Linked DNA regions of Homo sapiens. The protein of the gene in region 1 purifies or fractionates together with the protein of each later gene. This does not show direct contact. Each region holds a gene or a part of one and is shown on either strand. Other genes may lie near its edges.

What was found.
Region 2: the proteins of ATP2A2 (region 1) and LONP1 fractionate together in Homo sapiens (co-fractionation; one large-scale study listed by BioGRID). This does not show direct contact.
Region 3: the proteins of ATP2A2 (region 1) and NOTCH2 fractionate together in Homo sapiens (co-fractionation; one large-scale study listed by BioGRID). This does not show direct contact.
Region 4: the proteins of ATP2A2 (region 1) and BCKDHB fractionate together in Homo sapiens (co-fractionation; one large-scale study listed by BioGRID). This does not show direct contact.
Region 5: the proteins of ATP2A2 (region 1) and NDUFS1 fractionate together in Homo sapiens (co-fractionation; one large-scale study listed by BioGRID). This does not show direct contact.
Region 6: the proteins of ATP2A2 (region 1) and SLC35G1 purify together in Homo sapiens (co-immunoprecipitation; one study listed by IntAct). This does not show direct contact.
Region 7: the proteins of ATP2A2 (region 1) and ATP6V1A fractionate together in Homo sapiens (co-fractionation; one large-scale study listed by BioGRID). This does not show direct contact.

The regions. Positions count from the first base shown.
Region 1 is NC_000012.12:110,340,247-110,343,746, forward strand, and holds part of ATP2A2 (sarcoplasmic/endoplasmic reticulum calcium ATPase 2), read left to right. Parts: intron 1-412; coding exon 413-748; intron 749-1,981; coding exon 1,982-2,202; intron 2,203-2,985; coding exon 2,986-3,188; intron 3,189-3,500.
Region 2 is NC_000019.10:5,699,647-5,703,146, reverse strand, and holds part of LONP1 (lon protease homolog, mitochondrial isoform 1 precursor), read left to right. Parts: intron 1-2,219; coding exon 2,220-2,358; intron 2,359-3,500. UniProt on the Homo sapiens protein: ATP-dependent serine protease that mediates the selective degradation of misfolded, unassembled or oxidatively damaged polypeptides as well as certain short-lived regulatory proteins in the mitochondrial matrix.
Region 3 is NC_000001.11:119,965,163-119,968,662, reverse strand, and holds part of NOTCH2 (neurogenic locus notch homolog protein 2 isoform 1 preproprotein), read left to right. Parts: intron 1-430; coding exon 431-586; intron 587-1,041; coding exon 1,042-1,230; intron 1,231-2,173; coding exon 2,174-2,287; intron 2,288-3,096; coding exon 3,097-3,210; intron 3,211-3,500. UniProt on the Homo sapiens protein: Functions as a receptor for membrane-bound ligands Jagged-1 (JAG1), Jagged-2 (JAG2) and Delta-1 (DLL1) to regulate cell-fate determination.
Region 4 is NC_000006.12:80,340,671-80,343,720, forward strand, and holds part of BCKDHB (2-oxoisovalerate dehydrogenase subunit beta, mitochondrial isoform 1 precursor), read left to right. Parts: exon of another isoform or gene 1-1,970; intron 1,971-2,993; coding exon 2,994-3,050. UniProt on the Homo sapiens protein: Together with BCKDHA forms the heterotetrameric E1 subunit of the mitochondrial branched-chain alpha-ketoacid dehydrogenase (BCKD) complex.
Region 5 is NC_000002.12:206,145,945-206,149,444, forward strand, and holds part of NDUFS1 (NADH-ubiquinone oxidoreductase 75 kDa subunit, mitochondrial isoform 1 precursor), read right to left. Parts: intron 3,153-3,500; coding exon 3,076-3,152; intron 1,891-3,075; coding exon 1,809-1,890; intron 1,718-1,808; coding exon 1,587-1,717; intron 1,145-1,586; coding exon 959-1,144; intron 1-958.
Region 6 is NC_000010.11:93,900,478-93,903,977, forward strand, and holds the end of SLC35G1 (solute carrier family 35 member G1), read left to right. Parts: intron 1-274; coding exon 275-1,013; 3' UTR 1,014-3,347; downstream 3,348-3,500. UniProt on the Homo sapiens protein: May play a role in intracellular calcium sensing and homeostasis. May act as a negative regulator of plasma membrane calcium-transporting ATPases preventing calcium efflux from the cell.
Region 7 is NC_000003.12:113,795,535-113,799,034, forward strand, and holds part of ATP6V1A (V-type proton ATPase catalytic subunit A), read left to right. Parts: intron 1-341; coding exon 342-405; intron 406-2,708; coding exon 2,709-2,912; intron 2,913-3,500. UniProt on the Homo sapiens protein: Catalytic subunit of the V1 complex of vacuolar(H+)-ATPase (V-ATPase), a multisubunit enzyme composed of a peripheral complex (V1) that hydrolyzes ATP and a membrane integral complex (V0) that translocates protons.

The DNA.
Region 1 (3,500 bases):
GCAAAAACCGCCAGGCACGGTGGCTCAAATGCCTGTAATCTCAGCACTTTGGGAGGCCGAGGCTGGCAGATCACCTGGGGTTGGGGGTTTGAGACCAGCCTGACCAACATGGAGAAACCACATCTCTACTAAAAATACAAAATTAGCCAGGTGTGGTGGCGCATACCTGTAGTCCCAGCTACCCTGGAGGCTGAGGCAGAAGAGTCTCTTGAACCTGGGAGGCGGAGGTCGCAGTGAGCTGAGATTGCGCCATGGCACTCCAGCCTGGGCAACAAGAGCGAAACTCCGCCTCAAAAAAAAAAAAAGAAAAAAAATGCAGAAACCTGTCTCAATGTTTAACTGGGCATTTTTCAAACTAGGGGACAAAAACTAGAACTTGCCACTTTTATTTAAAGTGATGCTCTTATTTTAGACCAATCTGACCTTCGTTGGCTGCGTGGGCATGCTGGATCCTCCGAGAATCGAGGTGGCCTCCTCCGTGAAGCTGTGCCGGCAAGCAGGCATCCGGGTCATCATGATCACTGGGGACAACAAGGGCACTGCTGTGGCCATCTGTCGCCGCATCGGCATCTTCGGGCAGGATGAGGACGTGACGTCAAAAGCTTTCACAGGCCGGGAGTTTGATGAACTCAACCCCTCCGCCCAGCGAGACGCCTGCCTGAACGCCCGCTGTTTTGCTCGAGTTGAACCCTCCCACAAGTCTAAAATCGTAGAATTTCTTCAGTCTTTTGATGAGATTACAGCTATGGTGAGCATGTTTGAACATGTACAGGTGACTCAGGCTACACAAGCACATAGTAGCCTCTAATTTTGACCACTGAATTTTTTTGTCATAGCTCCCTAATTTGGAATTTGTCATGATTTGGGTCTTTTCTCTAGAATTCGGTGAATCAGTGGTTAGCATGTTGTGTGCTACTTGCAGGGAAGATCCTAGAGTCGTTTAAAACCCAGAAGGGCCTTCCAGATCAGTCCCAGAGGAACAATCTGGTGATCTAGTCTCTTTTTTAAATGAGACGTGTTTTTATTGTAAGTTTTCTGAAAATTGAGGATGTAATCAGTCAGTTGTTTGGATCACCCTGCTTTTAAGTTCTTTAAGAGCTGGCTATTGATGAAGCATTTCCAGTATTCTTCCCCTCACCTGATTTTCACCCAGATACATTATGTTAAATTTACTTTCTTCTCTTTTAAAAAAAAATCTTAGTTTTGAAACATACTATAAGTGTACTCTCCTCTCCCCCAGAGGTAACTGAAGTTGGAATTTAGCAAAAATATTAAAAACATGGGAGTGCTGTTTTTGTGTCTGTAGACAGTATTATTTTTGCATGCTTTTGAAGGCATATTTTTTGGCCGAGTGCAGTGGCTCATGCCTGTAACCCCAACACTTGGGAGGCCGAGGCAGGTGAATCACTTGGGGTCAGGAGTTCAAGACCAGCCTGGCCAACATGGTGAAACCCCGTCTGTACTAAAAATACAAAAAATTGCTGGGTGTGGTGGTGGGCGCCTGTAATCCCAGCTACTCGGGAGATTGAGGCAGGAGAATCGCTTGAACCCAGGAGGCGTGCAGTGAGCCGAGACTGCGCCACTGCACTACAGCCTGGGCGACAGAGCGGGACTCCATCTCAGAAAAATAAAAATTTGCATATTTTTGCAATCTGCATCTTTCTACTTGAAATTTATCCATGTGGATACAAGTGCTTCCTCTTGACTGCCACATAGGTTGTGTTTTTGTTTTTAGTAAGATAATACAGATAAATTTGAAGTCCCCTTTGTCCCACTTCGGTAAACTTATTTGGTAATTTTACATTTCCTAGGTAAAATGTGTTTTGTGACACCAACTTATGAAACAAAAATTCTAAAACTCTTTGCCAAGAGACCTACGGCTCTATTCATTTTCCTCCTGCTTCCCATTCAGTGGGCTTTTGCCTAGGGGTATGAATGTGGCATGCCAGTTGGCTGACCCAACCATTGCTTTCCCTTTCAGACTGGCGATGGCGTGAACGATGCTCCTGCTCTGAAGAAAGCCGAGATTGGCATTGCTATGGGCTCTGGCACTGCGGTGGCTAAAACCGCCTCTGAGATGGTCCTGGCGGATGACAACTTCTCCACCATTGTGGCTGCCGTTGAGGAGGGGCGGGCAATCTACAACAACATGAAACAGTTCATCCGCTACCTCATCTCGTCCAACGTCGGGGAAGTTGTCTGGTAGGTCTCTGTGACAGCATCACTTACTGTACGCCTTTATCTAAATGGGTCATGGAGCCCAGTTCTCGCAGTTTGCTCTCCAGATTGCAGCAGCTTTGGTCTTTGTGCCTGAGTTGGAAGAGGGGAGTGGGCAAGACAGAAATGCCTTATGGAAGCAGTGGTGCTTTGGCCCTCGGGAGGGTTGTCTGCAGCTGCCCCAATGTGCAAAGAATCCTCTTTAACGTGAGACTGAGCTAACATTAACCAGGTAGTCACATGAAATTCTTGCCCTCCAAAAGTTGGCTTTATCTCAGTCAGCTTAATAATTTTTTTATTTTTATTTATTTTTTTGAGACAGTCTCGCTGTCGCCCAGGCTTCGGGCAGTGGCACGATCTCAGCTCACTGTCCCCTCCACCTCCTGGGTTCAAGCCTCCCGAACAGCTGGGATTACAGGCATGCGCCACCACTCCCTGCCATTTTTTTGTGTTTTAGTAGAAATGAGGTTTCACCATGTTGCCCAGGCTGGTCTCTTAACTGCTGAGCTCAGCCAGTCTGCCCACCTTGGCTTCCCAAAGTGCTGGGATTACAGGCATAAGCCACCGCACCTGGCCTCAGTCATCTGAATTTAAGTAATAAACTAAGTAAAATTGAGCTTTAATTCAAAATTGGGTATAAGTATTTTACAGATTACCTGAAGTTGTTGTCATTTATTTTTCTGGAGGAGGGCGGGTTGATGATGCTCTTTAAATAGTGGCCAGAAGTCATTTGGGCTCTCTTTGTCTTCTTTTCTTGATTGGAAACAGTATTTTCCTGACAGCAGCCCTTGGATTTCCCGAGGCTTTGATTCCTGTTCAGCTGCTCTGGGTCAATCTGGTGACAGATGGCCTGCCTGCCACTGCACTGGGGTTCAACCCTCCTGATCTGGACATCATGAATAAACCTCCCCGGAACCCAAAGGAACCATTGATCAGCGGGTGGCTCTTTTTCCGTTACTTGGCTATTGGCTGTGAGTACAATTTTTTTATATTACTGATTTTTAAACAAAATGTTTGTGAGCTGAAATTTTGTAAATTCATCCCTTAAAAGCGTGTTTTTTCTTCTATCCCCGTATAGGGTAGCAAAAGACAGAGATGCCCTCTTACAGTTCGATGAACTATACATCCAATTTACCAGAGTCCTTTCACAGTTAGTTCCAGTTTTAGCATCCTGCCCTTACTTGGGCTTTTCTGAATGAGCAATTAAACATCAGGGTTTTCAGATTGAGCCCTCTGTGCAAAGGGATAAGAATGATTCACGCTAGGTTCTGCCTTCCAAGAGT
Region 2 (3,500 bases), on another chromosome or scaffold:
TGCAGTGGCACGATCTCGGCTCACTGCAAGCTCCGCCTCTCGGGTTCATGCCATTCTCCTGCCTCAGCCTCCCGAGTAGCTGGAACTACAGGTGTCCGCTGCCACGCCCAGCTAATTTTTTTTTTTTTTTTTATTGATCATTCTTGGGTGTTTCTCGCAGAGGGGGATTTGGCAGGGTCATAGGACAATAGTGGAGGGAGGGTCAGCAGATAAACAAGTGAACAAGGGTCTCTGGTTTTCCTAGGCAGAGGACCCTGCGGCCTTCCGCAGTGTTTGTGTCCCTGGGTACTTGAGATTAGGGAGTGGTGATGACTCTTAACCAGCATGCTGCCTTCAAGCATCTGTTTAACAAAGCACATCTTGCACCGCCCTTAATCCATTTAACCCTGAGTGGACACAGCACATGTTTCAGAGAGCACAGGGTTGGGGGTAAGGTCACCGATCAACAGGATCCCAAGGCAGAAGAATTTTTCTTAGTACAGAACAAAATGAAAAGTCTCTCATGTCTACTTCTTTCTACACAGACACGGCAACCATCCGATTTCTCAATCCTTTCCCCCTTTTCTATTCCACAAAACTGCCATTGTCATCATGGCCCGTTCTCAATGAGCTGTTGGGTACACCTCCCAGATGGGGCGGCTGGCCGGGCGGGGGGCTGACCCCCACTCCTCCCTCCCAGAGGGGGCGGCTGGCCAGGCAGAGGGGCTCCTCACTTCCCAGTAGGGGCGGCCGGGCAGAGGCGCCCCTCACCTCCCGGACGGGGCGGCTGGCCGGGCGGGGGGCTGACCCCCCCACCTCCCTCCCGGACGGGGCGGCTGGCTGGGCGGGGGGCTGACGCCTCCACCTCCCTCCCGGATGGGGCAGCTGGCCTGGTGGGGGGCTGACCCCCCCCCCAACCTCCCTCCCAGACGGGGCGGCTAGCCGGGCGGGGGGCTGACCCCCACTCCTCCCTCCCGGAGGGGGCGGCTGGCCGGGCAGAGGGGCTCCTCACTTCCCAGTAGGGGCGGCCGGGCAGAGGCGCCCCTCACCTCCCGGACGGGGCGGCTGGCCGGGTGGGGGGCTGACCCCCCCACCTCCCTCCCGGACGGGGTGGCTGCTGGGCGGAGACGCTCCTCACTTCTCAGACGGGTCGGTTGCCAGGCAGAGGGTCTCCTCACTTCTCAGGGCTGCCGGGCAGAGACGCTCTTCCCCTCCCAGACGGGGTCGCGGCCGGGCAGAGGCGCTCCTCATATCCCAGACAGGGCGGCGGGGCAGAGGCGCTCCCCACATCTCAGATGATGGGCGGCCGGGCAGAGACGCTCCTCACCTTCCAGACTGGGCAGCCAGGCAGAGGGGCTCCTCACATCCCAGACGATGGGCGGCCAGGCAGAGACGCTCCTCACTTCCCAGACAGGGTGGCGGCCGGGCAGAGGCTGCAATCTCGGCACTTTGGGAGGCTAAGGCAGGCGGCTGGGAGGTGGAGGTTGTAGCGAGCCGAGATCACGCCACTGCACTCCAGCCTGGGCACCATTGAGCACTGAGTGAACGAGACTCCGTCTGCAATCCCGGCACCTCGGGAGGCCGAGGCCGGCGGACCACTCGCGGTTAGGACCTGGAGACCAGCCCGGCCAACACAGTGAAACCCCGTCTCCACCAAAAAAATAGGAAAACCAGTCAGGCGTGGCGGCGCGCGCCTGCAATCGCAGGCACTCGGCAGGCTCAGGCAGGAGAACCAGGCAGGGAGGTTGCAGTGAGCCAAGATGGCAGCACACAGTCCAGCCTCGGCTCGGCATCAGAGGGAGACCATGGAAAGAGGGAAAGGGGAGACCGTGGAAAGGGGAGAGGCAGAGGGCAGAGGCAGAGGCAGAAGCATTTTTTGTATTTTTAGTAGAGACAGGGTTTCACCGTGCTAGCCAGGATGGTCTCGATCTCCTGACCTTGTGATCCGCCTGCCTCGGCCTCCCAAAATTCTGGGATTACAGGCGTGAGCCACTGTGCCTGGCCTGTAAATTGTTTTATAGAGATGGGGTCTTGCTGAGTTGCTCAGGCTGGTCTTGAACTCCTGGGCTCAAGTGATCCTCCCACCTGGGCCTCCCAAAGAGCTGGGATTACAGGCGTGAGCCACCGCGCTCAGCCCCACACATGGGTTTCAAGCCCCTTGCAACCACCCAGCCAAGTCCAGCAGAGAGACAGGCAGCTCGTGAGCTCCACTCAGCATCTCTCCATCTGTCCCCTGGCAGTGTCACCCGCAACTACCTAGACTGGCTCACGTCCATCCCTTGGGGCAAGTACAGCAACGAGAACCTGGACCTGGCGCGGGCACAGGCAGTGCTGGAGGAAGACCACTACGGCATGGAGGACGTCAAGAAACGCATCCTGGTGAGCCCAGTGTCTGGCCTGTTGTGGATTTGCATGTGGGTGCCCGGGCCCAGGACTCTTGTGTGCTGTGGGTTGAGATTTCAAAGGAGCCCCCTGGTGAATTCGTAGGCCTGGGGGTGCTGGTCGGGGGGATCCCGGCGGAGGTAGCATCCTGCCCTGCCCCCGAGGGCTCGAGGATTTCCCAGGTGGACTGAAGTCATGCCTGACGGGCCGGGCATGGTGGGGCTGCTTGTAGTCCCAGTTACTCAGGAGGCTGAGGCGGGAGGATCACTTGAGCCCAGGAAGTTGAGGCTGTGGTGAGCTGTGATCATGCCACTGCACATCAGGTTGGGTGACAGAGTGAGACCCCCATCTCTACAAAAAATTTTAAAATTGCGGCTGGGCGCTGTGGCTCATGCCTGTAATCCCAGCACTTTGGGAGGCTGAGGCATGCAGATCACCTGAGGTCGGGAGTTGAAGACCAGCCTGACCAACATGGAGAAACCCCATCTATACTAAAAATACAAAATTAGTTAGGCGTGGTGGCGCATGCCTGTAATCCCAGCTACTTGGGAGGCTGAGGCAGGAGAATCGCTTGAACCCAGGAGCCAGAGGTTGCAGTGAGCCCAGATCGTGCCATTGCACTCCAGCCTGGGCAACAAGAGTGAAACTCCGTCTCAAAAAGGAAAAAAAATTTTTTTTAATTAGCCTGGTGTGATGTTGCGTGTCTGCAGTCCCAGCTACTTGGGAGGCTGAGGTGGGAGGACTGCTTGAGCCCGGGAGGTGGAGGCTGCAGTGAGCTGTGATGCACCACTACACTCCAGCCTGGGTGACAGAGCGAGACCTTGTCTGAAAATTAATTAATTTTAAATTAATTTTTAAAATATCACTCCTGAGACATTGGAAACCAGGCAGGCAGGTGGGAGTCAAAGGTTAAAAAACAGGAGTCAGAGCCTGGGCATGGTGGCTCACACCTGTAATCCCAGCACTTGGGGAGGCCGAGGCGGGTGGATCACAAGGTCAGGAGTTCGAGACCAGCCTGACCAACATGGTGAAACCTCGCCTCTACTAAAAATACAAAAAAAGTAGCCAGGCATGGTGACTCACACCTGTAATCCCAGCTACTCAGGAGGCTGAGGCAGGAGAATTGCTTGAACCCAGGA
Region 3 (3,500 bases), on another chromosome or scaffold:
TGGGGAAGTAGGATTCCGGATAAAATATAGGATGTATGGAATATTTGAGACATACTAAAAATTACTTCTTGTTTATCTAAAATTCAACTGGACATCCTCTATTTTATTTGCTAAATCTGGCACACTATCTGGAAGATAGCTCCACTTTCCTGTCTCCGTCTTCTTATCTTCTGGCCTGTAGATGTCTCTGTCCTGGAGGAGAGGTCTAGCTGAGAGCTCAGGGTCAGAGTCTAGGGTTGCATCTAGGTGCTTTGCTGGTGGCCAAGCATGTCCCCAAGGTAGGGTCAGGCAAAGCAGAAGTTGCGTATAAATCTCCATGTTGGATTCTGAGGAACTGATCATGAGGTTTTCCCTCCTGGGTGAAAGAGAAAGCTCTTCCCCAAGTGAGAGACATTTTCTCTTAGTTGTCCTTTGCCCCACCCTGTGACAGGTCTCCTGTGTCATCTGGATGATGCATGCATCAGCAATCCTTGCCACAAGGGGGCACTGTGTGACACCAACCCCCTAAATGGGCAATATATTTGCACCTGCCCACAAGGCTACAAAGGGGCTGACTGCACAGAAGATGTGGATGAATGTGCCATGGGTGAGTAAGCAGAACTTTTTCTGTTCTGTGAAGTGTCTGTTGAGCTCAGCAAATGTTTAAACTGAAGCACATTTTACTGTAGAAGCAAATTACATACACCCAAACCTCAGATTACTCTTGCTACATGGCCAGTGTTTACAAGTGACCTTTCAGCATAGCCATAACCATATATTCCATTCTGGGGATTAACTGTATGAAACGTATGTACTTGATTCTTAATATAAAGCCCTACCTCAATGACAGTTTGGGCAGAAACTGCAATAGCAGAAATGCATAACAGTTGAGGATACTCCGCTTTTATTTCTTTTTAAATTAAGGAAAAAAAAATAGAAAATTGGGAATGATATTATTGAAGGCCTGGCCCTGATGCTATAACCATCAGATGCTCTTCTATTGTTCACATTTGTGGAAACTCAACTGCTTTGATCCCAGTAATTGGTACTTGTGTCTTTCAGCCAATAGCAATCCTTGTGAGCATGCAGGAAAATGTGTGAACACGGATGGCGCCTTCCACTGTGAGTGTCTGAAGGGTTATGCAGGACCTCGTTGTGAGATGGACATCAATGAGTGCCATTCAGACCCCTGCCAGAATGATGCTACCTGTCTGGATAAGATTGGAGGCTTCACATGTCTGTGCATGCCAGGTAAATGGGCCCATCAGCATGTTGGGTCTAGAGAGGAGGGACTGTTCTGAACTTCTCTTGGTAGAGCATTCAGTATACTATTGCAGTCTGATGAGCTCTGTCAGCATTTGATTTCCTTTGCTGACTGGGGACTAGAGGAAGTCAGGGTTCACAAGCAAACCTTCCTTACTCAAAGAGTAAGGCAGTGCTAGAATTCATCAAGCTATGTAGACCAAATTAAACAAGCCTGTTATATCAAAATCCACATGTAATAGAAAATTTCAAAAATGATTTACTGTAAGAATCCTTTAAATAGCAAGTTTTCCTGATACCTTCATGTAATTACAAATACCATACCATTCCATTTATATAAATAAATTTTATCCACAATTATATAGGAAGTTTCCATTTATCTAAAGTGCAGTACATGTTTAGTTGTATTCTGGAGCTCTTCTGCATAGACCATGTCTTTAATTTTGAGAGGATACAGCCAAATCCAGCTTGAAATGATGGCTAACATTGGCTGCTCTGCCTGATTAAGGCTGCCGGCCACTCCAGCCTTGAAAGGCACTGCTGACCTTGAACTGCACCCTGAAGGCAACAACAGCTCCAGCTCAGCTTGTCTTTAGGAACATAGAGTGGGGACATTTTGGGCCTTCCACAGTCCAGAAAGTATGGATTTATCACAGAAAATGTGGAGCAGTCCTTGTTTATATGCTAGGTCTTGCCAATGTCTTTTAATGTAATCCCTTCCCGCTTTTCACAGTGACATGGGTATTTCACAGTATGCCCTGTCCTGCTTGACACTTGGAGTGACTATTTCTCATCATGGCAGAGTTCCTTTTTTCTCTGCAGAAATGTGTGTACTCGCAAAGGATGTAGTTATCATTGCAAATTTGTGCTTCCTTGTCTGGAATACACCTTTCTCTCTCTTTAAGCCACTTGTGTGGTCTGTTTTGTTTAGGTTTCAAAGGTGTGCATTGTGAATTAGAAATAAATGAATGTCAGAGCAACCCTTGTGTGAACAATGGGCAGTGTGTGGATAAAGTCAATCGTTTCCAGTGCCTGTGTCCTCCTGGTAAGTGCCCACGACCTGGCCCTGTTTTCTCTTAAAGCACAAAGCCAACTGACCACAGGGAAGAGAGCAGGGAGAGAATGTGTGTGGGCTGTGCATGAGGAAATCATTAGAGTAAGTGCTTGGTGATAGGAGTGTGTGTGTACAGAAATAGAGAATTTGTTTTAGCTACTATATCTTACAAGTCCTTTGTGGCCAAAAGTCCAAGTCTATTCTTGAATGGCCCATGACCTCTTCGTCTGTGTATATATTTCAGAATGCTCATACCTCACAGAAGCCTTAGTTGTAGGCTATTCGGGATTTTATTTTTTTCCCATGGGTCATATTCTTGAAGGCCCTCTGTGAGACTGTTATTTTTAGACATTTCACCCATGAGTTCAGAAACAGACAACACATGCCAATTTTTCCAAGATTCTCTGTCTCTCCTTTTTTTTCCTCAAGCTATTTTTGAAGATATGCCAAATTGTCCTCCATAGATTGCATCTTACCCCATTGTATCTTCAGAGAGAAGGTTTCTGTTGCCTCTGAAGCTACAGTTACTTGTTTGAGGTTCCACCTATAAATTTCACTTCCTACATCCTTCATTTAGAAGTGAAGTCTGTCTGTGAAGAAGCAATGGTAGAGACACACCACAAGTGCCTCTGATTCCCTGAGTGTCACCTGGTTATTCCAGTTACCTGTTGGGGAGAATAATAAAGCATAGGCTTATTGACCCATTGGTATAAGCCCTGCTAGTAACCTAACATCATTCTCATGGTAAAGGGAGACACAAGATAATCCTTTGACTCATGTTACCACTGTCCCTTTTTGAGGTTTCACTGGGCCAGTTTGCCAGATTGATATTGATGACTGTTCCAGTACTCCGTGTCTGAATGGGGCAAAGTGTATCGATCACCCGAATGGCTATGAATGCCAGTGTGCCACAGGTAAGATTCTTCTCACTTTTCATCTCCTTGGTAGGTCCATCTGAACAAAATAGGGTGATTGTCCCTGTCCTCTGCTAGCTGCTGTGCCAGGCCAGTCCACTCCCAGAGGCTCCTCTGTGTTTAGGAAGAGCTGTTTCTAACAAATTTTTTGCTGCTCTCTTTTTCTGCAGCACCTGCCTCCTCCACCACAACAGTGGTCTGGCCCAGATATTTCCATTTGGTATCCATGTCTTTCTGGGACAGATTTTGGCAGCAGTAAGTTTCCAGCTGGCTAGATTGACTCATTTAGG
Region 4 (3,050 bases), on another chromosome or scaffold:
GGGCACATGGTTGCTATGGTTATGGCGTCATGTATTTATAATGGAGAGATACTTTGTCTTCATTAATCTACAAACTTGCCAGTGGGATTCGGTATTTTTTTTCTGTGTGTGTGTGTGTGTTTGTGTGTGTGTGTACATACGTACGTACGTACATGTATACAGCTTCTGCATGAAAACACTGAGGCTGAACAAGGTGTTCTGTTTTGGTGGTAGTGCAGAGAAACATACTCACACATAAATTATTTATATGTGAACCAATTCAGTGAGAAGTAAGTACAGCTGCTTAATTGACCTAAGGGTCTTATTTCCAACTGCTTAAAAATAAGTGTAAAGTGAAGTTCATGGAAGAAATAACTTAAGGCTCTTTAATATACTTTTGTTGGTGAAGAGAATTTCAAGCTGTTTCAGTCAGTTAGCATATATTCTTAAAAAGACTGATATCCTATTCGTAGTCTTCTCTTATATATCCTTGAATTATCTTCCATGATTTTTATATTTTATATACTTATAATAGCGTATTATAACAACTTAATGCTACATAATTTACAGTAATCGTTTCCAAATTAAGGAAGCCCTATGTGTAAAATCACAAATTTATGTAACATAACACAGGAACTTTTATTCATATAAGAAAATCATTATTCACTTTACTGTTTTCCTTTATTTCAGCATCATTTATTACAAAATTAATACTGTTTTCGAAAAACCAAAACAATATATTATAAAGCACAACGTGGAGTCTTCTCTCACCTCCTTGTCATTCCCAGCCTCAAAGGGTAACCACTGTTTACAGTTCAAGTGTGTCTTCACAGCAGATGTTTTTCTATGCTCGTGCAGACATATAGATGTATTCCTGGAAAGAGTGATGCTTGCATTCTTGAGGAGTTAGGAGCATTGCTATTTGAAAAAATAAAAATCCAGTTTGATGATGTTAGTCATTATGCTGAAAGGAGTGATTTTAACAAATACCAACAGAACTTCTTGTGGTAGGCCAGCTTTCCAAGTTACTGGTTCAAGAGAACAGTCATTTTATAACAGGTATAAAATCAAAGACGTTTAGTAAAATATTTTGCCCTTAATTCTCCATGGATAGCTTGTTTATGAAGAGTTCAGTATTCAGGGAAGATGGAAAAACAGCCCAGTGTCAGCTAAAGTAATAAAACCGACTTAATCCCAAATTGACAATTTAAAGCCCTTTAAAATTACTTGTTGCAAACAAGAAATAATCCACCCAGTCTGTCATCTCTTTTCAGCTTATTAGTAGTGGAATCTCTTAGGTGGCTCTTTAAACCGTGTGTATTAAAAGTCCTAAAGTTGTTCGTGGAGATTTCCAGTTGCTAGGGAATACCAACACTTATTTGGTGTTTGATATTGTAAATCATGATAGTTATTGGGGCCAAAGGGAGGTCTGTAAATGTCCAGTAGGTTCTCTTTGGAGCTAATTTGTGCTGTTTGCATTTTCTTTCTGCCCCAATACACTTGTCACTGGAAGAAATCACACAGGGGGTAGGGATAAAGCATGAGGTATCATGATTCCTTCATGTAAAAATTTTGCTCAAATTAAAATGTGAACATAGTATAATATGTAAAAAAAACTGGACCTCCTTAAATCCTTTATAAAGCAAGGCAATGTGTAAACACATGAATAAATATGAAGGTTTTATTTTAAGTAATAGCTGTGAATGTTAAAAGTAATATTATTTTCCTTAGAATAGTTTAATCACATATCCCTTTTAAATTTTTTAAGCCTTTAAACGTTTTATTTTCAGTCTGGGCTTGGGGACTCACACCTGTAATCCTAGCAGTTTGGGAGGCTGAGGCTAGGGGATCACTTGAGCCCAGGAGTTTGAGACCAGCCTGGGCAACATAAGAAGACCTCATTTCTGAAAAAAAAAAAAAAAAAAAAAAAGAAAGGGAAGAAAGGGGAAGGAAGGGAAGGAAAGGGAAGAAAAAAACGAAAAGAAAAGGAACAAAGGAAGGCGTCGGTGATGTGCACAAGTGGTCACAGCTACTTGGTAGTCTGAGGTGGGATTGCTTGAGTCTGGAAGATCGAGGTTGCAGTGAGCCGTGTTTGCACCACTGCACTTCAGCCTGGGCGAGAGAGTGAGACCCTATTTCAAAATAAATTCAAATTTGAATATTTTACTTGAGTAACATTTTTTTTCTCCTGAAAATAATTTTCTACAGTGTTCTACTGTGGTTGAGGTTTTCATGTTTAAATCAGATCTCTAGCCTCATGGGACTCATAGTCTCTCATGGAAGACAGATAATTGGGCAACTACAATGGATTATGCCGAGTTCGGTGCTTTGGGAGCTCAGAGCACAAGCCCCTTCCTCATCTGCCCTGTAGGGCTGGGGAGGTGCTGTCAAGGAAGGCTTCCCAGCGGGAGTGATTCCTCAGGTAATAACCTGAGATTTGTACACACATCAGTCAGGCAAAGAGCTGTGGACTTGGGGTGTGAGTGGCCAGAGACCCAGCATTATCTGCAAAAGCTAGACTATGAGAGAGATGAGAACACAGTTAAGTAACTGATAGAAGTTCAGTCTGGCTGGGGCATGGAGGAATTACAAACATTTATTATGAAAGTAATACATGTGCATTGTATAAAATGTGAGAAAAACAGAAAATGAGAAGGTATATATTATTGCCAGTTTCATGCTGCAGAGTTAACTACTGTGAACATTTGTTGCATTTTTATAATTCTTTCCATTTATATTCGTAGAACAGCGTATTTGATATTATCCCAGTTTGGCTTAGACAATAGATATATATACAGGTATAAAATGCATATGCATACATGAAAACACATAATAAAACTGGGATCATGCGAACATGCTGTTACCTGCTTTTTTCATATTACAGTATACTTAAATATTTTTAATGTCCTTAGATGCAATTGTATTTTTAGTAAGTGAAATATTTTAAGTTGCACTATTTCATTTCTGTGAGTAAAAAAAATTCTTGAAGTTAAGCATCCTGACTCTGTCTGCAGGAGGAATGTTTCTTGAACCTAGAGGCTCCTATATCAAGAGTATGTGGTTATGACACA
Region 5 (3,500 bases), on another chromosome or scaffold:
AGGCTGCTACATGTGCAGGTGAAACCAGAGAAAGCTCAACCTATTCATAAACTCCTGGATAACTCTGAGACCCAAAGGGCCCAGTGCAAAGTAATAGCTGGGCAAACTTGAAAACAGCCTCAACTTTGAATATGCTCCTCCATCCACAAACAGATCCATTGGCAAAGAACATAACTCTTATTAGGTCACGGTGTTTGAAGTACAATTATACCTGACTACTAAACTATGCAGACACAGGGGAACTCCTAAGAAGCCTCACTTAAAAATAAAACCAAGAATATTAAAATATGTTGAAAGAACCAAAGAAAATCATATTTAAAAATTGAAGGGGATGTATGACAACCACGAATCAGCAAGTAGAGATTCTCAGTAAGGACACAGAAATTACACAGAAACAAAAAGCCAAATCCCAAGTTGAAAAGTATAAAGTTTAAAATTGGATGATAATTTGTTATGTTTTAAGAACCTTAAAAATAATCACACCTCTTGCATCTATCTACTCCATTTCTTGGTTTAATCAGGAGAATGAGAGATATACACAGAAATGTGTAAACAGCAATATTTTTTACAGATTTGTAATCATAAAGAAATATACAAGCTAAATGTCTATTAGCAGAAACTGGCTAAATGACATTCCTCATAGTTGAAAACTTAATAAACAACAACATGGGAGACTATACATTTAAAATGTCAACACTATTAAACTCTTTGGAAGAACACATGAAAAAAATAATTTTGTGGTTGAGTACTTTAGAATTAATTTCCAAGAAAACTACAGTTAATTTGCACAGGTTCAATCCATTCTAACTACTTACCTTCTATTTAAAGGGTTTTACATAAACAAACAAAGTCAACAGACCAAAACAACTGAAACCCAGGAAGAAAATGAACCTTAATATTTTTTTGAATAGTAATGAATTAAGGACAAAAAAACAAATTGTCATAAAATAAAAGATACCTTGTTTCCCAAGGCCGGGCAGTAAAGGCATAGGGCTTAGAGGTTAGGGCACCTACAGGGCAGATATCAATGATATTCCCAGACAGTTCAGACATGAACATCTTTTCAATGTATGTGCCAACTTGCATATCATTTCCTCTGCCTGTTGTTCCCAAATCATCTACTCCTGCAATCTCACTTGCAAACCTACAAGATAAAAAATGTGTCATCAATGGTCAAGTCCAGCAAAATTATTTCCTTTCTTATTCATGATCACAAAGAGATGATTTTCCAAACACTAAAAAGAAATGAGTATATTTTTAAAGGTGAGCACAGTCCTAGAATAAAAAATAATGAAATGTTTGCATTTAATTGAGGTGTAACACACAGGCAGAAACTTGTACAAATCATATGTGTACAACTCACCAAGTTATGAGTGAAAGCAAATGCTTATAGATTTTAATTTTTAAATCCACCTGAAGTTGGTACTAAATGAAAGTGAACTTATTTTATTCATATATCAGAAACAGCATCCCTCTTCTCCCACCCAAAAAAAGTAGCCATTCTTTCCAATGTTATTATTCATCAAATTGTGACTATTAAGTATACAATTATATTCTATAATAGAAAAAAAAGGAAAAAAAGTTACCTGATGCAGCGAGTACACTGTATACATCTTGTCATGATGGTCTTTACCAATGGCCCAATGTTCTTGTCTTCCACAGCACGCTTCCCCTCTAAAAATCGGCTCCTATCATTTCCAAACATCATGGACTGGTCCTTAAGTAGATTATGAAAGAGTCAATCTCATGCTGCTAATAAAATTAAAATCTGAGACAACCAAAAAGATTGACAGAATTCTACTACATACCTGCAGATCACATTCACCTCCCTGGTCACAAATAGGACAGTCCAATGGGTGATTTGCTAATAAGAACTCCATCACACCTTCCCTGTATGAAAATTGTAACATATAAAATGACTCTCAAATACACACACACTGACATTAACTGCTGGCACTCAAAATGACCTATAGACTTTATTTTTTTTTTTTGAGATGGTGTCTCGCTCTGTTGCTCAGGCTGCAGTGCAGTGGCACAATCTTGGCTCACTGCAGCCTCCTGCCTCCACCTCTCAGGTTCAAGCGATTCTCTTGCCTCAGCCTCCCGAGTATCTAGGATTACAGATGCCCACCACCACACCTGGCTAATTTTTGTATTTTTAGTAGAGGCAGGGTTTCATCATGTTGGTCAGGCTGGTCTCGAACTCCTGACCTCAAGTGATCCTCCCGCCCTGGCGTCCCAAAGTGCTAGAATTACAGGCGTGAGCCACTGTGCCAGGCCCACATATAGGCCATTTAAACAACCTTCATAGATGTATATTTGTTATACAATTAATAGTAATTTTACATTTAATATCAGAAATGCCAATTATCTATCATTGTGGTAATATTTTTTTTAAGAGACGGGGTCTTGCTATGTTGCCCAGGCTGGACTCGAGCTCCTGGGCTCAAGTGATCCTCCCGAGTATCATTCTGGTAGTATTAAACACACAATCTGGAAAATGCTTAGAGGAGCCTAGAATAAAGTATCATTAGAGAACATAGAAAATTATGATTTTTGGTCAGGTTTGGTGGCTCACGTCTGTAATCCCAGAACTATGGGAGGGAGGCTGAGGCAGGATGATCACCTGAGGCCAGGAGTTCAAGCCCAGCCTGGACAACATAGTGAGACCTCGTTTCAAAAAATAAAGAAAATTGTAACTTTTAACAATACCGAATGATCAAAAGTTGCTGAATGGTCCTCAGAAAATATTCACATTAATTCAAAATAAAAACAAACACAATCAATCCCAGTATAGTATAGTAGTAGCTTAGTAAGTCCAGATTCACCCTTCTTCACAAGTTGAGCAAGTTACTAAAGAAGGATTTTTAATGCTGATCCTAAAGCTCAATACCATAAACTCCTGACTTCACCTTCTCTACTATGTAGTACTCACTTCTATTGCTCCTAGAAGCTGAGCACACCAACTTCTTCCGAGTTTGATATTAAATTCTTAATCTATGGGAAGGTCTAAATACCAAAATGTGCAATTTTCTGCTTTATGAAAGGGTACTACATTGAATAACAATAAAGTACCTGGCTTTTTTGGATTTTTCTGAGTTTGTTAGGATATTCCAACCCTTCATTACTGGCATGGCACAAGCAGCTACAACCTGGGATTTCAATGAAAAAAAAAAATGTGTATTTGTATTTATTTGTGATTACAAGCAACTCAATATATAAAAATGTTAAATTATATAAAAACATTAAATTATACATTTGATAACAGGCAAAGAATAGGGTATTTTTTAAAACTGAATTTTGTTAAGTTTTCATATTCATAATACGATGATCTAGTACTTTGCATTTATCTCAGAAATAAAACATCCTGGTTTTTAGGTTTATTCTAATAGTCAATGCAATTTTTTATTCTGCTCTGAAACAGAACACCAAATAACTGCTTTGATTAGCAGGCACTATTGAATAAAAAAATTGCATACACCAAAATGAAATTAAACTAC
Region 6 (3,500 bases), on another chromosome or scaffold:
AAATATCTATATTAATTGAATTATAATTTTACTATGCATGTAATTCACTTGCACTGGTTTTGCTTTTACTGTGAACACTTTACTGTCATTAACTATACTTAGAAAATACTATTTTTAAAAAGTATATAATATTCATTTGTGGATATTATAATTAATTTACTATTCCCTCATTTTTTGATATTTAGTACTTTTAAAATAATGTTTAATTACAAATTGTAATTTAAAAACAAATATTAATTTCATTTAATATGCATTTCTTCATTTGAATTTACAGAACTGGGTTTATAGGCCCAAAAGGTCAACGAATTTTCCTCATTCTCAGAGGAGTCCTTGGTTCTACCGCCATGATGCTTATATACTATGCTTACCAGACAATGTCCCTCGCTGATGCCACAGTTATCACGTTTAGCAGTCCAGTGTTTACGTCCATATTTGCTTGGATATGTCTCAAGGAAAAATATAGCCCTTGGGATGCTCTTTTCACCGTGTTCACAATCACTGGAGTGATCCTTATCGTGAGACCACCATTTTTGTTTGGTTCCGACACTTCGGGGATGGAAGAAAGCTATTCAGGCCACCTTAAGGGAACATTCGCAGCAATTGGAAGTGCCGTATTTGCTGCATCGACTCTAGTTATCCTAAGAAAAATGGGAAAATCTGTGGACTACTTTCTGAGCATTTGGTATTATGTAGTACTTGGCCTCGTTGAAAGTGTCATCATCCTCTCTGTATTAGGAGAGTGGAGTCTGCCTTACTGTGGGTTGGACAGGCTATTTCTCATATTCATTGGGCTCTTTGGTTTGGGGGGTCAGATATTTATCACAAAAGCACTTCAAATAGAAAAAGCAGGGCCAGTAGCAATAATGAAGACAATGGATGTGGTCTTTGCTTTTATCTTTCAGATTATTTTCTTTAATAATGTGCCAACGTGGTGGACAGTGGGTGGTGCTCTCTGCGTAGTAGCCAGTAATGTTGGAGCGGCCATTCGTAAATGGTACCAAAGTTCCAAATGAAGCATCATTGCTGAAATACATATTTTTTTCAAGTACACCATCACCTAATTCACATACAGCATACGCACACATCTGGAAAATCTGCATTTTCTTCATTGGTTGTATTTAATAAATTGCCTAAAGTACCATTTTTGAATATAGTATGTCTTTAGTTAAGAATAGCTAGTCTGTTTGGTGTAACAATTTTTTGGTAGCTTTGGTTTTGGTTTTGGTTTTTTTTGTTGTTGTTGTTGGGGTCAAGTTGGTGAGAGGAGAGCTCATTGTTTGAAGAAAAACCAAAACATTTTATGGCTAGTAATATTTATGTAATTTTTAAAATGTATTTTTGGTACTGATGGGATATGGGTGGGGAGGCTATTTTAGATATTCTTTTAGCAGTGTAGAGCCTAAGAAACTTGGTTCTACTACCATGATCTTTATAAACTATGCCTTCCAGACAATTGATAATGCTGCTATAATTAGTATTATGTTGATAATTCATTTGCAACCTTATTCTATTTAGGAGGATGAAGTTGAAGCTTAGAATAGGTGCCTGCTTAATGGTGTTAATAATACAAATGAATTGGCCTTATTTTCAAGGATTTTATAAATGATTATCATACTTGTAACTCATATTTGTGCCTTTTCATTTTAATGCTGGAATTTTTATTATGTCACCTCTAAAACACTTAAATTGCCAAATTTGGCTAGTAGTTTTGTTTCAGTGGCATTAGCAACTGCAGCTAGCATACTATAATTTTAATTGTCCTCACTTTTTTTTGAAACTGCACTAAATTTTTCTTAACATTCCAAGATTTCAGATCTCTAAATCACAAAGAGAAATCTTGGCATGACCAGTGTGCACGTTTCCATCCTGAAGTGTTTTCTCTTCACTAGAAATGTGATTTTCTATAAATTCCCCTTGAATTTATAGTGTGATGCCAAATAAAATTTTCTCAGGATCTTATTAGGTTGAACCATATGTAATTGCCAAGATTTTACTATTTTAACTTAGAAAAACCATCGTTTCATATGATTCACCCTAATAGATACCTCCATTATTCTCTAAATGAAATAGAAGACTTTGGAGTATATGTTTTTAAAGTAATTTTTTAAAATATGGTAATGTATTAAACTTATTTTTATAGTTATGAAATTATGTGTAATAATGCTTTATGTTATACATTAAATGTAAAGACTTGTGAATCCATGTTTGATTGACTTTCATAGTTTCCTGCATTGAAATAAAATCACTATGAATTCTAGTTTATCAGCATGATGTTAAATGTCAGTGCCATACCATGATGCAGCACCATGACACTAACGCCATGAATTCAAACAGCACGTTTTACACCTGGAACTTCATCAGACCAATACTTTGCAGTTAGAGAGAATTTAATATCTAGAAAAGCTTGGGAGGTTAGTCAGGACTTAGGGAGTATACATAAATGGTTACTTGTTGTAATGAGCCCTTTATTGGTGAGGTTGCAATAGCTTCCAGCTCTTACTGTGTCAGATGAAGCATCTGTCATTATCTTAAGCCTGCAGAGTTGAAAGGTTATAGGCTCTTTCCTACCCTCTCATCATAATTTTTCCAAAGCAAAGAGGAACTTGGCTTCTGGGGTTCGTGCCTTAGTGAGAAAGAATCTTTTCCAATAGTTCCAATGGGGGAATTTTTGGCTTGCTGATTTTATCAATTGCCTTGACACCTGACAAACCCTAAATGAAGTCTATGTAGGTGAGTCATCTCTGTTCCACCTGATTTACAGTATTGGAATTTAGACTTGCAAAAACATCATTCTGCAAATATCTTAGATAATTACAGAATCAGGAGCATTTGAGAACTCTAGAGGTCTCAGAAATCATCACATAGGGGCCATGCTTCGTAGATAGGGATGATAGAGAGGAGACCTGCCCAAGTTGAATTTCCATGGCCTTCCTCCCTTCCTTAGTTCCATGATAAAGTATGGACAGTAAACCACTACTTGAGCTACCTAAGGTGAATTAACTCTCAGGGAACCCTCTTCCAGTTCTTTACCTTGCACAGTGAAAGAATCAGTGGCACCTAGAAAGTTAAATCCCTTTAGGCCCATACACTAGAGACATGTTTTGTTTGAACAATGTAGTTTAAGTACTTGAATGTCACACTATATAACTGAGGTTAGAGAAAATGTTTCTTCTAGCCCTTACAGGGTGTGATTCTTAAACACAATGTCCAAGGTGTATACAAGGATATGTATTGTAACAACTATGGGTATGTATATTTTGCAGAGCGTAGTTTCTATATCTTGAAAAGGAAAATATTTTCATAAATTGTTTTTATAAGTACTAATAAAATAATATGAAAGAAAGCTATATGTTGGTTGTTATGATTATAGCAAATATATAACTTATTTCCCTTTCAACCCTATGCTTCAAAATATATTTTCTGTAGGAGATTGACCTCTAGCCATTCAGCTGGGATATAATCTCAAAGTTTAAACTGTCTGACCCACTTGTACTATCAAG
Region 7 (3,500 bases), on another chromosome or scaffold:
TCACTACATAAAGCCATACTTTTTTCTTAGAGCGTTTCCTCCTTGCTTCATCTATTTGATTAGAATAATAAAATTGATTATAATAAAATATCTATCTCATGTCTCATAATAGAAGGTGTTCTGTAGTTTCTATTGTTGTTTACAACTTAAATACTGGCTTTTGTTTAAGATTTTTAGGTAAGATTTTCTTTCCAAAGGTCATTTCTAAAGTTATTTACATTAAAAAGTTATTTACATTAAAATCGACTTTAAAAAAAGTTAACATTTATATATATGTTATTTTTCATAAGCATTTCTAATGACCATTTTTTTTGTAATGACCATATTTTTTTTAAATTTAGAGTTTCTCCACCTGGTGGTGATTTTTCTGATCCAGTTACATCTGCCACTCTTGGTATCGTTCAGGTATGTCTTTCCCTAGTATAGTCAACTTCTGAGCCTTTCCTCCTCTCTGCAGCCCCTGCTGTTCTAATGCGATCTAATGTAATCGTTGTGAAGTATTTAATTTAGTCTCTAAAGGATAGGCAATGGTAAAGTCTGGTTTAGAAACACTCTTAACACAGAGCCTTTAATACTGTCTGTTTTTTTCTTAGCTGTTTACATAGGATTTATAATAAACTTAATAATATATAAGTGGAAAATATAGGTAGCAAAAATTTTATTAGTATTAGAGTAGTATTATCCTTTAAGTCATAGTAACCCTAGTTATAGAAACAAAGAGGCCCAAAAATGTGTAATACCCAGAAGTTATTTCACTTCACAGTATGATCCAAGGCTCTCTTCTGTTTAGTGATAATTCTGAGTCCAGGATTCTTTCCATCTTGTGACTCCACTGTCACCTAGCCTGGTGATCATCTGCATCTAGCTGACACAAGGGAGCTGGGCCTTGTGGAGAAGGCATACCCACCTTTTTTGAACCTTGGATTCAAAAGTGACACAGTCACTCCACTCATTCTATTAGCCACATCCAGGTGAAAGCAAGGCTGGAAAATGCAGTTTCTGCCTAAGCATTTGCTTTCCAGTGACAAGACATGAATTTTAGTGGATAGGTAGCCAGCTTGGCTATTAAAAGAAGCCCAAATAAAAGATGTGTACAAATCAGAGCTATAGTTAAAAAAAAAAAGTGATATGTGTATATTATTCATGTGGGAAAAACAGAATATTTACTTGTGTTTCTGACAGTATCAGAGAAAAGGAAATGTCAGAGGCTAAATGTACAACTCTCAAGCTTTTTAACGTTTGCTAAAATTTTGAGTTTTAAATTATGGGGAAAGAGGGAACAGAGTTAGAAATGCATGGAATATCTGTGAATGTTTGCCCTTACAAAAATCACTGTCAGTTGTTGTTGGATTGGCCCTGTGAATGATAGGCAACTAAATTTAATCAAAACACTTAGATGTTTTTGTTTTGTTTGTTTTGATACGGAGTTTCACTCTTGTTGCCCAGGCTGGAGTGCAATGGCACAAACTTAGCTCACTGCAACCTCCACCTCCCGGGTTCAAGTGATTCTCCTGCCTCAGCCTCCCAAGTAGGTGGGATTATAGGCACCCGCCACCACACCTGGCTAATTTTTTGTGTTTTTAATAGAGACAATATTTCACTATGTTGGCCAGGCTGGTCTTGAACTCCTGACCTCAGGTGATCCACCCGCCTCAGCCTCCCAAAGTGCAGGGATTACAAGCGTGAGCCACCATGCCTGGCCCAGAACAGTTAAAAAAAAAATTTTTTTTTTTTTGAGATGGAATCTCACCCCCATCATGCAGGCTGGAGTGCAGTGGCGTGATCTCAGCTCACTGCAACCTTCATCTTCCGGGTTCAAGCAATTCTTCCTCCTCAGCCTCCCAAGTAAGCTGGCATTACAGGCATGCGCCACCACCACGCCCGGATAATTTTTGTATTTTAGTACAGACAGGGTTTTGCCATGTTGGCCAGGCTGGTCTCGAACTCCTGACCTCAGGTGATCCACCTGCCTCAGCCTCCCAGAGTGCTAGGATTACAGGCGTGAGCCACCATGCCTGGCCAGTTAGAGGTTTTTAATCAAAGTAAAGTGTGTATTCGATCTACATAAACCTTTTCTGGTTCTATTGTACCATAATAATTTTCAAAAGAGTAAATTAATTTTTCTTTTTGCTTTTGGATTTGGCACAGTATTAAGAAAATAGAGGTAAATTTTAAATTCGATTTGTAGGTATTATGCACTTGGAAAATGAAAGGAAATAGATTATTGTCATTTTCTGCAAGTTTTATTCTGTTTTAATTTTACTTAGTATATACTAAAACGATGTATAATTTGACCAGTGAATTGTAGAATTGCATATTTAGGGGTCAGGCATGGTGGCTCATGCCTGTAATTCCAGCACTTTGGGAGGCCAGGGATCACATGAGGTCAGGAGTTCGAGACAAGCCTAGCCAACATGGTGAAACCCCATCTCTACTAAAAGTACAAAAATTAGCCGGGCCTGATGGCGCATGCTTGTAATCCCAGCTACTGGTGAGGCTGAGTCAGGAGAATTGTTTGAACCCATGAGGTGGAGGTTGTAGTGAGCCGAGATCATGCCACTGCACTCCAGCCTGGGTGACAGAGCAAGCCTCTGTCTCAAAAACAAAAAAAAAAGAATTGCATAGTTGGGACAAACATGCTTCGGTATTTTTTAACTTTGTTTTTTGAGAAAAATTACTGTTTTTGTGTGTGTGTTTTTTTTAATCAGGTGTTCTGGGGCTTAGATAAGAAACTAGCTCAACGTAAGCATTTCCCCTCTGTCAATTGGCTCATCAGCTACAGCAAGTATATGCGTGCCTTGGATGAATACTATGACAAACACTTCACAGAGTTCGTTCCTCTGAGGACGAAAGCTAAGGAAATTCTGCAGGAAGAAGAAGACCTGGCAGAAATTGTACAGCTTGTGGGAAAGGTGAGTTGTTAAATTCCATGGAAGATAGATCTGTGGGTTACACTGGGGTGTTTCAAGGACAGATAGAGCCTTGGATATTACAGATTCTTGCCTAGCAAAATAAATATTTATTAAATATTTTTAATTGAAATTTTCTATTCATTATAGTACTTAGCATGGTTTTTGGGTATATTGTATGTGAGAAAGAAACATTTGATTTACTTTTATCTTGAAATGGAATATACCCATCACCAACCAAATTAGAGGTAGTAGATTTAGGATTTGTTAGCATACATTTTTGTAGGAATGCTAGGGCTAGGTTTCAGAAGGATTGGCTTCTAGTTCCTCCAATAATTAGCTATTGGCCTTAAACAGGTGAGTTACATTCTTGTGCCTGTATCTTGGATTCTTCAAGGAAAGATGGTGTAATTAAATTTAGGCAAATTAAATGCCAGAATGAAAAGACTTCTCAGATAGTATGCAATGCTAGTTAGTACTCAGAGTTCTTTGTCTGGTTTTGTTCTTTTTATTACATGTTACAAAGTCATCTCCTAATTTATTCCAAAAAAGGTTAATATTAGGAGATAGCTAACATTCTAACATGTATTA